Linked DNA regions of Homo sapiens: region 2 is linked to region 1. Evidence: fine-mapped expression QTL. A gene starts in region 1. The other region holds a variant in brackets. All regions are shown on one strand. Distances are from middle to middle. Region 1 holds the start of POT1-AS1 (POT1 antisense RNA 1). Region 2 overlaps LOC101928283 (a long non-coding RNA gene).

Evidence for each region. PIP is the estimated chance that this variant, and not a neighbour inherited with it, causes the effect.
Region 2: its variant is fine-mapped to the expression of POT1-AS1 in blood mononuclear cells (TOPMed, PIP above 0.99).

Annotation. Positions count from the first base shown.
Region 1 is chr7:124,928,145-124,931,073 of GRCh38, reverse strand. It overlaps POT1-AS1 (POT1 antisense RNA 1), which reads right to left and starts at 1,201. Exons shown (of 8, transcript NR_125719.1): 1 at 1,058-1,201. It overlaps POT1 (protection of telomeres 1), which reads left to right and starts at 1,249. Exons shown (of 19, transcript NM_015450.3): 1 at 1,249-1,280; 2 at 2,075-2,259. RefSeq lists enhancers at 965-1,259, 1,014-1,313.
Region 2 is chr7:125,225,466-125,228,394 of GRCh38, reverse strand. The region is part of intron 3 of LOC101928283 (a long non-coding RNA gene); the gene reads right to left. Among named protein-coding and RNA genes, the nearest start is that of LINC02830, 73 kb to the right of the region's middle. The variant A/T (reference allele first, on the strand shown) is at 1,326.

The DNA of each region.
Region 1 (2,929 bases):
CCGGCTTCTGCGTGGGATATAACTACAGGGATGGGGAGGGGAAACAGGAGATGGGCTAATACTGAATGCTTCCTGTTGATTAAAAAGGCACTTCAAACATAGCTGGCTGGGCACAGTGGCTCATGTCTGTAATCCCAGCACTTTGGGAGGCCAAGGTGGGCGGATCACAAGGTCAGGAGTTCGAGACCAGCCTGGCCAAAATGGGAAACCCCGTCTCTACTAAACAAATACAAAAATTAGCCAGGCATGGTGGCCTGCGCCTGTAATCCCAGCTACTAGGGAGGCTGAGGCAGAAGAATTGCTTGAACCCGGGAGGTGGGGGTTGCAGTTAGCCGAGATTGCGCCATTGCACTCCAGCCTGGTGACAGAGCGAGATTCCGTCTCAAAAAAAAAAAAAAAGTTAGCTATATCCTCCTGCAAATATGTATATAAAGAAGATATTTTAGTTCAAATTAGCCTTGGAAATATTCATGTAATTCTTTATTACATTTAGTTTCACACTAGGATGATTTCACTTAAATGATTGAAGGCATATATCTGGAATTAGCAGAGAATTCATGTTTAACAATTTATCATTATAAATGATAAATTATAATATTTATCAATTATAAGTTATAATAAATATTAAATAAACTATAATAAACCTATAAAATAAATTATAATAAATATTAATTATACCACAAAATCATGGCCCTATAAAACAATGACAAGGTTAATCAAATCTGTCTGTAAATAGCAAGACTCAATGGTGGCATTATGCCAATGCCCGAAATTACTATAAAAACTCCCAAATAACATTGTTATCCTTGTAAATGCTTCCTTGTAAAGACTGCAGTAGGTGCCTATTTCTTGGAGGAAGAGAACTGGACATTAAAAGAAAGGCTCTGCCTACAGGAGCTTCGAATCTACCAAAGGGAAGCTCAAATCCCGCCCAGCGGACCCGCCCGCTTCCCCTAAGCTTGCCTCCCGCCACGAAAGCTGGAAAGTCACTGGGGGCGGAGCTAAGGGGAGCTGCGAGAATTCCGGGGGATGTGACCGGACTGGGCGGGGCCTGTACCTTGGCCCTGCGCTCCCGTTGACGTCGCATCCTGTCAGTATTTCGCCAAACCTCCAGGCGCCATCAGTGTGTGAACCGTTACGCAGCTGGTCCACCGCGGGCGGAGAACAAGCGACTATGCCCAGGGATCCTGCACGCATGCGTGGAGCTGAACCGTCAGCGTGCGTGTGACGTCACCTGCGCGCCCGCCTAAACTCTTCCTAGGGTTCTTTCTAGAGTACGGGTGAGTGAAATTTGTAAGGTTTGGTGTGTTCATTTGAGTGGGTGCCAGACGTAACGGGCCCGGGATTGAATTAGTTTAGATCAAAATTTGATGTAATTATCGCAGAGAAACGCTTTCTTACGAGTGTTTATCTCGAGCCTGCTGTGTTCAGCATCTTTCTTGGTGTTTTGGGAGAAGCAGACAGGAGTTAAGTCCAAGTCCCCGCCCTCACAGAGCTCAGGTGGCTTGGGGGAAGGTTGGTGCGCAAACATTAAAATTAGATATCGACACTAGTGAGTGTCCCCGTCAAGAGGTCTGTGAAATAAGGTTGAGCCTACGATGCAGAAGTTAATCTCAGTTCAGTAATTTTTGTTTCTTCATTTATTTAGCGGGTGAAGGGAGGGGGCCACAGAAACATGTTGGAGTACGATGCTTTTGGTGCACAGTTTGTCTATACAATATTACAGCTCCCGTGGGGGTTAAAAAAAAACACGATTTTTCAGCCTCCCTCTTCCCCAATAAATTTTACATTTTAAAGCACAATGTTAAAAGCGTTTGTTAGTGACGTTACAGATCTTAAAACTGGCTTTTTGGAGGTACTTTACGCAGCTAAGTAGAAAATGGTTAAGTTTCAGTTCCTTGGAAGAATGTTTTGTATTGATCTTTGCAATAAAATTGTAAAATAATCCATCCTCCTGTCACCCCCCAACCCCGAACCGTGTTAACTATAATAAGGAAAAGCATAACTAAGTCAAAGAGACTTAAAGCAAATTATTGACTTCATTTTGGGTAAAACACTGGTTTTGTATTTTCAGCAGCAAGTTGTCAGATTCCCTAGTTGAATTTGCTTTGGACATCAGTGTGAAGCAGAACTGATATGCCACTTGAATTAATAAAGGAAGTCAATGGGGTGCCTGAAGTTCAGCCGCTGAGTAAATTACATAAAGTAGATTTCGGATCCCTACAGCCAGGTTACAATTATAGCAAGAAATATATTCAGGTAAGAATTTCTATAACTCAGAATGCTTTTTCCTACTAAAAGGAATGCAGTTTTTAAGTGTTGAGTTTATTTATGAGAACTGGTTTAGGTATGGTTTTTATCTTTGTCATAACATTTGAGATTGAATATTTCAATAAGTTATTCTTATTCAGTACTTATTTAGCGAACAATTATCAAATTCGTGTGTGAAACATTGGAGTAAGTTTCTGAGGTACAAAGATGAATAAATATAGTCCCGGAACTAAAGATAATCACATTTCTGTGGGGTCTGACAGATCAATCACCTGATCTCCAATTAAAATTAATAGGTGTGATATTAGCATTGTGATGTGTGAACATGAGAGAGCTTTTGGTTCTGACAGATCACGAAAGTTGAGCTGGAACTTACGGGATAACAGACTGTGCTGTACCTTCCTTTGAGGTAAAAAGCAGTCCTTATGTGCATGTTGAGGAATTTGGATATTACTCTAAAAGCTATGGGAAGTCTTTAGTAGGTTTTAGCAGGAGAAAGACATGATTTACTTTGAGTTCAAAAAACTTTGCTCCTAGGTAGAGAATATATTGGCGAATGCAAGATTAGAGGAAAGATGTTTAGTTAAGAGGCAATTACAGTAATTTAGGTGAGAGTTGATGATGATCTGGGCCAGTGGCAGAGGGGATGATGGGAAGG
Region 2 (2,929 bases), 300 kb before region 1:
AAATGGTATTCTTCACAGAAAGTTTCAAAAACCTTAAAATTTGGCCAGGCACACTGGCTCACACCTGTAATCCCAGCATTTTGGGAGGCCGAGGCAGGCAGATCACGAGGTCAGGAGATCGAGACCATCCTGGTTAACACGGTGAAACCTGTCTCTACTAAAAATACTAAAAATTAGCCAGGTGTGGTGGTGGGCGCCTGTAGTCCCAGCTACTCGGGAGGCTGAGGCAGGAGAATGGCGTGAACCCAGGAGGCGGAGCTTGCAGTGAGCTGCTGAGATCGTGCCACTGTGCTCCAACCTGGAGGACAGAACAAAAGGCTTTCCAAAAAAAAAAAAAAAAACACTTAACACTTAATATTTGTGTGGAACCATGAAAGGCCTGAATAGCCAAAACAATTTTGAGAAAGAAAAACACAATTGGAGGCATCAGACTCCCTGGTTTAAAATTACTGTGTATTCCAAAGCTAAAGGAATCAAAAGAGTATTGTACTGGCATAAAAACAGACACATAGACAAGTGGAACAGAATAGATTCAAACTCCAGAAACAGATTCAAACTCCAGAAATAGAAACATATAAGGTCAACTCATTTTTGACAGGGACACCAAGAGGACACAACGGGGAGAGGAGAGTTCTTCAAACAAAGGTGCTGGGAAAACTGGAGGTCCACATGCAAAAGAATGAAATTAAATCTTTATCTTAAATCATAAACAAATATCAACTCAAAATGGATGAAAGACCCAAATATTTAAGATAAGAAACTATGAAACTCCTGGAAAATAGCATAGGGGAAAAGCTCCTGGGTATTGGCTTTGGCAACAGTTTTTTGGCTATTACACCAAAAACTCAGACCACAAAAGCAAAAATAAACATAGGAGACTACATCAAACCAAACACTTCTGTATGGCAAAGGAAACAATCAACAAGATGAATGAATTACCTACAGATTGGGAAAAATATTTGCAAACCATATATCTCATATGTGGTTCATATTCAAAATTTATAAAAATTTATATAACTAAATAGTGAAGAAACAAATAGCCTGATTAAAAATGGGCAAAAGACATGAATAGACATTTCTCTAAGGAAGACATAAAATAGCCAACCATTATACGAAAAGGTACTCATCATTATTAACCATCAAGAATATGCAAGTCAAAACCACTGTCAGATACTATCTCACACCCATTAGAAAAATCCTAAAGACAACAAATGTTGGCAAGAGTGTAAAGAAAAGGGAACTCTTACACACTATTGGTAGGAATATAGATTGGCATAGCCATTATGGAAAACAGTATGGAGATTTCTAAAGGAATTAAAAAGAGA[A/T]CTACCATATGCCCCAGCAATCTCCCTTTGGGCATATGCCCAAAAGAAATGAAATAACTACCTCATAAATATACCTTCACTTCCATGTTCATTGCAACATTATTTGCAGTAGTGAAGATATGTAAACAACCTAAGTTTTCATCAGTGGATGAATGGATAAAGAAACCATGGTACATATATGCAATGTAATATTATTCACACCTAATAAAGAATGAGATCTTGCCATTTGCCACAACTGGATAAGTCTGGAGAATATTATGCTAAGTGAAATAAGCAAGATGCAGTAAGAAAAATGGTGCATGGTCTCACTTAGATGTAGAATCCAAAAAAAATTAAATATACAAGGAAAACAAAATAAGTCTAGAGAGCTAATGTATAGCATGAGGGCCATAGGTAATAAAATTGTACCATGTAAGAGATTGATGTTAAATGAGTAGATTTAAGTGGTTCTTGCCACAAAAGCAAAACTGTGGGTAAATATTTGAGATGATAGATGTGCTAATTTGCTTCATTATAGTAATTTCTTTACTATCTTTATTTATACCACAACGTGTTTATACCTTAAATATGCACAATAAAATTTATTTTTAAAAGTCAATGTATAGCCATTTTTCAACACAGAAACTATAATTTAAGTTTGAACAATCACAAAGAGTATTGCCATACAAATTATATCGTTTCTTCGTCTTTACCTGTAGTGCAGCAGAAGTCTGGATAAATTTCAGAATGTATAACATGAGTTAAGGAATACACTTTATTGAGAAAATCTGTGTATGCCCAAGGTCAGCAAGCAAAGTTTTAGGAACCCCTTATCCTCTTATCATTCATTCCACAGAGAAATGTGCTCAATCTCTGAGCCTGTTAAATCATTGAGTCCCCTCTAATATGAGTTTCCTTTTTCATATAACAAGTATAGGGAAACAGTATCATCACTGAAGGAATAAACGAATGGATGGATTTAGGGTCCATCTATTTCCAAAGGTGTTCTGGAAATACTAGCATTTCAAAACCTAGAGATCTTGGATCTCAAGAAATCCTTCTGTTGGGGGAGGAAGCCTCAGGCCTATGGGAAGATGATTTGGTAAGGGAATCCCTACCTTCAATTTGCTAATATACAGGCAACACAAGGTGAGCATGTGAGGTCACTTTCAGCAATTCTTGTGGCAGCACAAGTCTTATAAAAACTCATATGAAAAGTATCTTTATTATTTAGTTATAACCATTACCATAATATTATCTTACACCAATGGTAATTTAAGACTAACAAGTACTACATCATACCATTGCAAATTTACCTGAACTTTCTATATATGGTACAATTTTAAGCTTCATATTTGCAAGAATAATAAGGTCACCTGGTGCCAAACAATCTTAACTGTCATAACCATTACTATACTTTGGTACTTCAAGATGATGGACCTGAATGAAAACGGATTCAAGGCTGCAGTCTATACTTGCCTCATGCAAGCAGGATATGGCTGTCACTGCCTTGAACCACAGAAAATCTGCAAAGTAATTATATAAAAAGTTGCTGGTTTTTACATCAGGAACATATAGTGTTTGGAGTCTAACTAGCTATTAAGTTATATATATATATATATATC